Linked DNA regions of Homo sapiens: region 2 is linked to region 1. The links come from fine-mapping of genetic effects on gene expression. A gene starts in region 1. The other region holds a variant in brackets. All regions are shown on one strand. Distances are from middle to middle.

Region 1 (5,372 bases):
CACAGTGTACTGTACTACAGAAACTGCACTGTACTACATAAAAAATGGCAACTGTGAAAACTACATAGCAATATGGGGAAAGATTATGATAAAGTATGCCTTGAATAAAGACTACAAAATTATACATAAAGAATGGCTGGGAGCGGTGGCTCACACCCGTAATCCCAGCACTTTGGGAGGCCGAGGCGGGCAGATCACCTGAGGTTGGGAGTCCGAGACCAGCCGGACCAACATGGAGAAACCCCATCTCTACTAAAAATACAAGATTAGCCGGGAGCAGTGGTACATGCCTGTAATCCCAGCTACTCGGGAGGCTGAAGCAGGAGAATCGCTTGAATCCGGGAGGCAGAGGTTGCGGTGAGCCGAGATCGCGCCATTGCACTCCAGCCTGGGCAACCAGAGTGAAACTCTGTCTCAAAAGAAAAAAGAAAAAAGAAAAAAAAAGAACAGTTACAAGCATGAACTCCCCCACCACCACCACCACACACACACACACACACAGAGGCTGGCTGGGCGTATCAGGCTGGGTGTAATCAGGAAAGAGTAACCTTACAGTAATTTGAACAGGAAAATAATAATATAAACATGTATTAATTATAATAGGGGACTGTAGTCCCCTACAGTTATAAGGAACTGCCTAGTAAAAAGAAAAAAGAATGCTAAATAATACAAGAATAGCAGATATAAGTAGCCACTACCTCAAGGACTGAGACAGAGCACCTAAGAAAAGGTCCTAGATCCCCTTAGACCAGGGCAAGTTGGTGCAGAAGAAGTTGTGTACCGCAATAGCCTAGCATTGAATACAAATGCTGTTTAGAAAAATATGGGGAACATGGAGGTTTCATCCATACCAACTGACTTTGGACCCAACATCACACAGTGCCTGGTACAGATACCCAAGTGTTTTCTACATATATGTCTGAACACCCCAGATAGGAGATATTCTTTTAGGGCAAGGGTTATGTTTCATCCTCCTCCTATAGCCAACCCTATACTTGGTATACATAATGAGTTCAACAACAATTTACTTTTGAACAGAATATATGAACTCTGAGGGAAGACTCCTATTAATCTGTGCCTTTTTTCCATTAATTTTTATTCTATTTTTTCTACTGTAAAAACAAAAATAATGCTTATTAAAGAAAATGCAAAGGTTAAACAAAAGGAGAAAAATATCAGCCATATTCCTGCTACCCAGAAATAATCACTGTTAGTACTTTGGTGCATTTTTTATACCAATAGTTTTCTTTTTTCTTTAAACATAGATGTACAGACATCGTATCCTCCATGCAATTTCATATCCTGAATTTTTTTACTTATCATAAAAAAAGCATTTCTCCAACTCCTCATCAGCTCTTTATTTAAGAATTAATGGTGAATTATTCTCTATAGAAAATGTTTACATTGATGTTGAAACTACCTCAAATGCTAACTGCACAATCTCTTTCTGAAGATTTTAGGTAGTTTACTTAACCACTTCCCTTTTGGAACTCTGAGGTTCTATTTTATTTTTCCTATTATAAATAATTCCATAATGAACATCACTGTACTTCATATTATCTCTGATAGGCCTATTTCCGACGATGGCTGTCCCACGTGTGAAATTACCAGTTCAGATGCTACAAATGCATTTATGGCCACTGAGCAAAACTTAAGATCACCAGCCACCTGCTTCTAAACATGGAAACTGGTAGCTTTCCCTTTTACAACAGGACACAAACCCGAAGCTCCTTCTATGCCCTCTAGTACTAACACTTGCTTACCTATCACCTAACACAGCCTCCCCTCTTCCCTGCCCATAAAACGCTGCCCAGCCCTACATAATTACACGACCCTGGGCTGGTCCCATCGCCTTTCGGACCTCATCAGTCCCCATGCTGCGCAGTTGGAGAGTGGCATGACTGAAGTGCTGGACCAGAGCATATCCTACGGCCCCTCCTGGAGGGGAGGTGGTGCCCTGGGCGCCGAAACCAAGCGCAGGGTCTTGGCAGGGCGCAGTCGCTTCGCCGGTAGACCCGGGGACTCAAAGCAATAGAACTACAGCTTGGAGCTCCAGGGAGAGCCCAAGACACCGCAGCCCTTCCCCATCTAGATTCCGAGATTGGCCCCTGGGCCCCACTCCCAGCCTTCACTTCATCTCCCCTGAAGCCCTTTCTCTTGCCCGCGGCTCACCTAGTCCACCCTCCAGACCTCATTCGGACTTCCCATTCTTCCCAGTGGAGGGGTCGCCCAAACCCCTCGGGGTCTCCTTTCCCCCTCTCCTTTTCTTTCCGCGCCGTCCAAGCCAGTCCCACTCTCCACACTCTGGAAGGTATCGGCTACCCCCAATATTGCGACTGCCTTGCAAGATCCCCCCATCACCTCCTCCGCATGTCTTTCCACGTATCTGTATGGGGTTGTCCCTCTGTCTTTCCCGCCATGACTGGCTTTCCGTCCTATTTCACCCACCCTTCCTCCCACGGATCCGCGAGTCCTCTGGCCCTGGCCCTTTCATTTTATTAGTCCGCCCCTCTCCTGATAGCACCTCTATCCTCTTTAGGTCCCCTCATATGCCCCTCCTCCAAGTCTGTCCCTCAGCGTCCCCGTCCGCGTCTCTACTGTCTGTCCCCGAATGTGTTCCTCTGTTCCTGGAGTCTGGCCCTCGGTCCAGCCAGGCCCCTGCTCACCATCCCTCCCCCGGGCCGGAGAGTCTGCAGCCCGGTTCCCGGTTCTCGCTGGGGTAACTCTTTCCTCTTCCACTTTCTCTACTTTGAACCCATCCCAGCAGAGTCCAGGAAGTAGCCTGGCGCCGGAGACTGGCGGCGGCGACGCCCAATGGGACGCGCCAGCGGCGGCGGCAGCCCCGCCCAGAGAGCAAATGAGACCAATGGTCGCGTGAAGGCGGGACTTCCGCTGTCCCGCGAAGGGCGGGGGGAGCGAACTGTTGTGGTGCGGAGCGTTCGGCGGGCGGCGGCCGGGCGGCCCAGGGGCTGCCGCGGGACTCGGGGCGCAGCCGAGTGGCTGCAGGGGTGGAGTGGGCCGGACGAGCCGCGGGGCCCGGGTGCCGCGGGTTCGAGGCCGGGCCCCGCGCGAGGAGGCCGCGCCACCCCGGGGGAGCTGCCCGGCAGCGAGTTTGCCCCGCTGCCGAAAGAAGGCGGGAGCCGGCAGGGGCCTTCGAAACCCCCTGGCAACCCAGGCCCGGAGTCCTTGGGGAGCGGCTGTTTCCTGGGACGCCCTCCCGGACACCCCCGCTGCAGGGTTACGGTTCTGGGCCCCCGGCAGAAGGCTCCTCCGGGTGACCCCCGGCGGGGCCCTGCGAGCCGCGGGAGCCGACCCCGGGGCCTCGAGCCGGGAGGAAGGGGGCTTCCGGAGGCGGAGGGCCGGGGGCCGAGGGAGCCGGGCCTCTCGGACGCGGGGCAGGGCAGCGCCCGGGCTGGAGACGGACTCTGGGACCCTCGGCTGCGGGGGTCTCAGCGACCTGCCCCGCGGCAAGCGCGGCCGCGGAGTGGCCTACCGGGGACCCTCCCCCAGAGGGACCGGCCCGGGGCGGGGAGATGAACGGCTTCAGCACGGAGGAGGACAGCCGCGAAGGGCCCCCCGCCGCCCCAGCTGCCGCCGCCCCGGGCTACGGCCAGAGCTGCTGCCTCATCGAGGACGGCGAGCGCTGCGTCCGGCCCGCGGGCAACGCCTCCTTCAGCAAGAGGGTCCAGAAGAGCATCTCGCAGAAGAAACTCAAGCTGGACATCGACAAGAGCGTGAGTCCGCCCCCGCTCGCGTCTGGGCCCCGGCGCCCCCAGCTCTCCGTCCGCTGCCCTGGGCTCCAGTCGGGACTCCCCGGGCACTCCCCGCCGTGGGCCTCGCCGCCCCGGCTCTGCAGAACTGAGTTGGACTCCGCATTTCAAAGGCCGCTCCAGCGCTGACATGCTCTGACTGTGATTCTACCCAGATCCGGGAGGATGGGGGCGGGGGCTTCAGGACTCCTGCTGCCTGGAAAGATTGGACAGCAGTTTCCAACTTGTTTTATTGGTTTAGACTTTAGAGCAGGGAGAGGTGGGTTAGTTTTGTTGGCCCTTGAAGGAGCAAGAATCGGAGCGGGGAGTGATGAAGATACCCGGCTCTTTTCCAACTTCTCTCTCCTTCTAGGAACCCTGTTATTCCTTCAGACAGAGAAAGGTGGCAGTTACTTCCCTGGCTCCCGCATCCTCGGTATCAGCAGAGGGTCACCGAGCTAGCTGCTTCGCAGGCAGCTGTGGGAATGGGTTTTTCTAGGATGTGGCAGAAATAAGGCCAAGGCCAGGTCTTGAGAAATGGCTCTTGCAGTCGATGTGACTGGAGGGGGGAAGAAAAGAAATCAATTTTCTTAGTGGTAGTTTCTTTTGAAATAAGGGGGTGGATATTTAAATTTAAATCGGATTGCCCTGCTCTTTGTGGCTTATTATAGGAAACTCCTCCCGTGTGACTTCACCACTTCTAGTTAACAATTCTGAAGCTGTGCCTATTGTCAACCAATTAAGAACTTTTTAGTTTGACATCTGTTGCTACAAGCCTTAAGTGATTGCTTCATGATTAGGAATTGGAAATGAGTTAAGGGGATATTTAATATTCAGGTAGACTAGCTAAGAGCTTAGGTGGTTAACATCCATTCTCTTCTAGAATCAGAATTTCTCCACAGTTGGAGGAAATCAGAGACTGCTTGTTAAACTGAAAGGGAGTGCACGTTTCCCCTCTGATTTTAGGGTTGAAACAGGCCCAGAGATAGGAAGTGAGGGTGTCAGGTACACACAGCACCTAAGAGGCTGGTTAATTTCTTAAAGATATTATCTAATTTACTTCCAAGCCCTATACATAAGTCTTCATTAAGTCTCTAATAAATAAAAAATCTCCCCTGTCCTTTTTCTTTTCTTTTTTTTTTCTTTTTCTTTTTTTTTTTTTTTTTTTTTTTTGAGACGGAGTCTCACTCTGTCACCCAGGCTGGAGTGCAGTGGCAAGATCTCGACTCACTGCAACCTCCGCCTCCCGGGTTGAAGCGATTCTCCTGCCTCAGCCTCCTGAATAGCTGGGATTACAGGCGTTTGCCGCCATGCCTGGCTGATTTTTGTATTTTTAATGGAGATAGGGTTTCGCCATGTTGGACAGGCTGGTCTTGAACTCCTGACCTCAAATGATCCACCCGCCTAGGCCTCCCAAAGTTCTGGGATTACAGGCGTGAGCCACTGCGCCCAGCCCCTGTCCTTTCTTCAGACTCTTCCCTCCTACCCCCATTTTTAAGTTAATCATTATAATACAGTTGCAGCTCTTGCATGGACAGGTGCTATTTTTAAGTGGTTGGGAGAGAGTTAATGGCTTTCTTACTACAAATCTCTATCAATGAATGCATGAATGGAAATATCTGA
Region 2 (5,372 bases), 55 kb before region 1:
AGTTCAGAACTGGAGAACATAAATTCTTGATTAGCCCAAAAAAAAAAAAAACCTACAATTCTTTTGATGTTATTTAGGTTTGAAAAGCAGTTTATATCCTTTTTTTTTCTTTTCTTTTCTTTTGTTTTTTTTTTTTTGAGATGGAGTTTCACTCTGCTGCCCAGGCTGGAGTGCAGTAGTGCGATCTTGGCTCACTGCAGCCTCCACCTCCTGGGTTCAAGTGATTCTCCTGCCTCAGCCTCCTGAGTAGCTGGGACTACAGGCGCCCACCACCACGCCCAGCTAATGTAGAGATAGGGTTTCGACATGTTGACCAGGCTGGTCTTGACCCCCTGACCTCAGGTGATCCACCCACCTCGGCCTTTCAAAGTGCTGGGATTACAGGTGTGAGCCACTGTGCCTGGCCAGTTTATATCTATTTTAACCACCAGAGTTCTGAAGTTGTCTCCCATAAGGAGACCAGCCCCCTAAATAAAATTAATATTCACATAAGGGTAATGTTCAAAATATGTAACAACTGTGATAACACAAGCACATCCAGTCAGAACAGATACCAGCTATAAACAATGGTGCATCCACTCCAGCGTGTAACAAGTGAAGTTCGGTCCTGATCATAGCTAACAGGACAGTGTGCCAAGCCCTTCATACATGCTGACTTGTTTAATCCTCACAACAACCTTAGGAGAGTTGTATCATTATTATACCCGTTTCACCAGGAAGGCAAGCAAAGCTCAGACCAAGGCCTCGCACAGCCGGAAGAAGCAGAACTGGGGCCCAAACGCAGGTCTGCTTGACTCCAAAGCCCACGCTCTGACCTGCTATTTTTGTTGTTGTTTAAATCATACCCAGACTGTTCTGAAAACCTGCCATGTTTTATGGACCTCTGCCTCACCCTTTCTGGGATTTTTTTTTTTTTTTTGCCTCTTCTGGTATTATTCCTAGTTTACTTGGATATTCTGCAATTTCTTAGTTAATGGAATTAATAACAATCTAAGTCGGAAGTGGCAAATAGGGCCAGGAATGGTGGCCGAGATGGGAGGATCTCTTGAGCCTAGGAGTTTGAGACCAGCCTGGACAACACAACACGACCCCATCTCATTAAAAAAAAAAAAAAAAAGAAGGAAAGAAAGAGAGAGAGAGAAGGAGTGGGGAGGGAGAGAGGGAGGGGGAAAGGGAGAGAGAGAGACAGAGAGAGAGACACAGCAAATAGGTTTCTACTCCCTGCCAGGCCAACTCTGATCCATTGGTAGGGGCTGCCCCAGGTGGGTGTTGATATGCATTCTGAGGCTGCTTCCAAGCTTATCAGCAAAGAGTAGTCAGTGGGGGAGGGATCTTTTTGTGTTTCACTCACCGCCATATCCCAAGTACCTAAAGCCTGGTCCAACACAGAAAAGACACTATGAGACCAATTTTTATGAGTCATAATTTTTATTATTGTATTAAATCTTTTCTAAAATTATATTTATATAAATATCTTATAAATATTCTAAAAATATGTAAAATGTATAAAAGTCTAGTAGTTCTGATATAACACTGTCAGCCATAATTCTGGTTATCATGTTAAAATACTACATATAATAAAATAACTAAATTCAAGACCAGCCTGGCCAACATTGTGAAACCCCATCTTTACTAAAAATACAAAAATTAGCCAGGCGTGGTGGTACATGCCTGTAATTCCAGCTACTCAGGAGGTGGAGACAGGAGAATTGCTTGAAGCTGGGAGGCAGAGGTTGCAGTGAGCCGAGATCGTGCCACTGCACTCTAATCTGGGCGACAAAGCGAGACTCCATGTCAAAAAAAAAAAAAAATCAAAAACCTTTATCAAATTTTAACTGGGATTATTCTATTTTTCTCACTTATTTAGAATTATTATTCTAAATTCTTCTATAAAGGCATTTACAATAAATTCTAGTCCAACATTGCTTTTCATAAAAAAGACTCCAATAAATATAAGTATAAAAAATAATACAATTAAAAGTATACAAATATATATTCCAATTTTATTAAATATCATATTTTTTCCAGTCTACAACAGACTTTATTACTATGAAGTCTGTATTACTGTATAGAATCTATAATATCCTCATAATAATCCTATTAAAATATTGTATTAAATACAAAAAAAAGACACCATCAAAAACCCCCTGCATCCTACTAATGAGAACTAAACTCAGTCCAAAACATATTTTCCAAGAAAAGGCTAAAAAACACACTAGGTCTGATACAACTACAACTAAAAATTACCAACCTTCCTAAACAAGAGCCCTTCTAACTACAGATGGCAATCAACATTAATTCTTACCAACACAACCAAACAATTTATGACCAAAAACTTCGTGAAACAAAGTGGCAAATGTAAGAGGCCGTGTTTGCCCATTTCCCTTTGCTGGGAGAATTTCACAAAGCCCCTGACTCCGGGACACTGTGCAGCTCTCTGGAAAAATGTTTTAAAGGCAAAACAGGATAGAACGCATGGCCCCCCATGTCTCTCGCCTGAGTCACTAATTCCATCAAAGATAAATGACCCTAGTCCTCGCCTTTCTCTACTCATAAAATAACACCCGACAAGAATAGTGACTATGTTTCTGTAATCTATAACCAGATGTACTCTAACACCCAAACCTTGATGTAATTTTTCACATACTAAATCTTCACCACCTATGTATAAACTAAAATACTACGTTGGAGGAGTCTGAGAGAACCTTTCTAAAAGCCTCCTCCCAGGCTACAGGCCTTGGTCTATAATCCTCAAGAAGACTTCTAAATAAAACTAACTTTAATTCTTTAAAAGCTTCGTTTTTTTTCTTTAGTTGACAGCAGTTAACAAATATTGGCTGAATACTCCAAGTAAGTGTGTCCCTGGCCAGAATCAGCCTCCAAGCTCCTAACTGGCTCCTTGCTCTAGAAGACCCTCTTCAGAAC[C/G]CCCACCATGGAGAACAGTGAATGGAGAAAGATTTGCACAAAGGAATTTCTAAACCAGCCCAAAATGATTTCATTCTATGTGTTTCAAAGACCCATCTACTGATGCTCATCAGGCAATTATGGCAGAACAAATGGCATTTTTCTCCACAGTTATTTACAATAGACTTGGTAATGAAGCCATATTGGAAGTATCTCATCCGGGAGGGGGAAGGAGGCTGGCTTACATTTCCATTTGATCCAATTATGTCCGTCACTCTCCAGAGGAAATGAGACAGTGTAATGAGGAGGCTCCTGAGGTCCGGAAGGGAGACTTTTCTCCCTGGGCTTTCTCTCTCCTGGCTTGGAAAAGGAGAGTTTCTGGAGCCAGCAACAGCCCATCTGCCAGTGCACTGTCTCCCAGGACCCTGTGGAAAGACTGCCTGCAGGGCTGAGGGGAACAGGTGAGCCCATTCATCCCTGGCAGCGCCCTGCTGGAATGCAGGTGTTCTCTTTCAGCCAGAGCTGGCATTTACGAAGGACCGAATTCCCTCTGATTCATCTCTGCTAAGATCCCTTTTCTTGGTGACAGAGAGAAGCCTGGTCTGAAAGGCATGAGTGTATTTTCAGAAATTAAGATCAATCAACACGTACCTTCAGGGCTGAGGGCTGATTCCAGACCGGATTCTCTATCCTGATGAGAAAATCCCCAAAAAGTGTCCCAACAGCTCTGAAATTTCTAGAAAAGTCATTGACTTTCCCTTTCCCTCCCTCCTTCTCTGTCTGTCTCTCTCAGCAGAGCAAAGTTCTCACGTGGAAGTCAGAATCTTCCTAGTTCTAGTGGTTGGACAAGTCTTTAACTCCATAGCCTAGCTCCAGCTAGGTTCATGAGCTGGCCCTACTGCTCTCTCCTTTCCCCTTTTCCTCTTATCCCATTGCATTAGTCTGGATTCTTGCTTACAGATAACCAAAACCTTAGTCAATCTGATTTAAGCAAAAACCAGAATTGATAGGCTCACATAACTGAAATTCCAGGGTAGACCCTAAGGCCGGGCTGGATGCAGGGACTCAGTCATCTCACTCGGGCTAGGTCTCTCTCAATGCCTAGTCCCTATTTCATCTGAGTTGGCTTCCCTCTCAGGTGGGCTTTTTCTCATGGAGATCCTCAGCAGCCCATGGAAGGAGAGTGTTTTTCCCATCATCTTGTACAAGTCCCCAGGTTGAGTCTCATTGGCCTGCTGGCCCCATGCCCATCCCTGAACAATACTGCAATTGGTCACCTGCAGTCACATGCCCTGTGACTGCAGGAAGGTGGGGATGGGCTAGTTACCCAAAGGAAAGTCCAGGTGCTGTGCCCAGAAGGGAGAATGGATGTGGGGCAGAGCAAACCGTAGATGTCTACCTTACCCAGCCAGACAAGACTGCATGTAAGAACCAGGCTTACGGGCCAGCCCCTCTCTGCAGGCCCACACTGTACACTCCTGAAATGCCATTCCTTAGTCTGGCCAACCCTCATTCACCCTTCCAATCTCAGCTTATATAGATGGCTCCCCATGCTGCCTAGGAACTACCCCACATTGCACTCCCATCTCTGCATGCTCCCTGGAGGCAGGGAGGAGGTTTTGTCCACCTCTATATCCCCAGTCTCTGGCCCACATCAGTGTTTTCAGTAAGTGTTAGTGTGTTAGTGGCATCACTTCCAACTGATATACCTCCTTGGTACTACCCTTCCCAGACTTAGGAGGCCATCTTTGGACAATGGTGTATGGTGGGAAAGTGCTCAGCAAGGAGGCTCTCCTTCCATCCTAGGACCCTGGGCCAGTTGTTTCACCTCTGGTCCTCATACCCCAGACTGTGCTGATACGGTTTTCCTTCCTACCCCACAAGATAGGATCAAATGAGATGCTGTGTGGACAGCCCTCTGACATACACAGATATGAGGGGTTGTTTGGATTAGGGGGGGAGGCAGCAGGATGAGCAGAAAGGAAACTGCACAGTGTCCCCAGGAGGCCATGGTTAGGATATCTCCAACTATGAGATACGGGAGACAGAAAGTATCCAACCAGGACAATGTGACCAAACTAAAGTGAGAAAAATGTAGGCTTTGGGGCAGTGTAAGTGGGTATATCTTCTGTGAATAGCAATTTGGCAAAATCCATTACATTTCAGAGCAAGCACATTCTTTGACCTGAAATTCCATGCCCAGGAGTTTATATAAGAGAGACAGTGATGAGCAAAGATTTATTTGCTGAAGTGTTACTTACCATAGCAGAAGATTGAAAATGACCCAAATGCACGTCCTTTGGGGATAAATAAGTTAGAGCATATCTAAACAAGAAAATATTACGTAAAATAAATTGGAGGTCTCCACAAAAAAAAAAAAAAAAAAAAACCCATTTTTTTTCAGACAGGATCTCACACCGTTGCCCAGGCTGGAGGGCAGTGACGTGATCAGAGCTCACTGCAGCTTC

The links. PIP is the estimated chance that this variant, and not a neighbour inherited with it, causes the effect.
Region 2: its variant is fine-mapped to the expression of SAP30L-AS1 in fibroblasts (GTEx, PIP above 0.99).

Annotation. Positions count from the first base shown.
Region 1 is chr5:154,443,072-154,448,443 of GRCh38, forward strand. It overlaps SAP30L-AS1 (SAP30L and GALNT10 antisense RNA 1), which reads right to left and starts at 2,751. Exons shown (of 3, transcript NR_037897.1): 1 at 2,667-2,751; 2 at 291-409. It overlaps SAP30L (SAP30 like), which reads left to right and starts at 2,926. Exons shown (of 4, transcript NM_024632.6): 1 at 2,926-3,734. The coding sequence starts at 3,534. RefSeq lists enhancers at 2,550-2,669, 2,723-3,223 and silencers at 2,800-3,329, 3,460-3,569.
Region 2 is chr5:154,387,786-154,393,157 of GRCh38, forward strand. All of the region lies in intron 7 of GALNT10 (polypeptide N-acetylgalactosaminyltransferase 10), which reads left to right. SAP30L-AS1 (SAP30L and GALNT10 antisense RNA 1) reads right to left here. Exons shown (of 3, transcript NR_037897.1): 3 at 1,984-5,229. Among named protein-coding and RNA genes, the nearest start is that of MIR1294, 43 kb to the left of the region's middle. The variant C/G (reference allele first, on the strand shown) is at 2,926.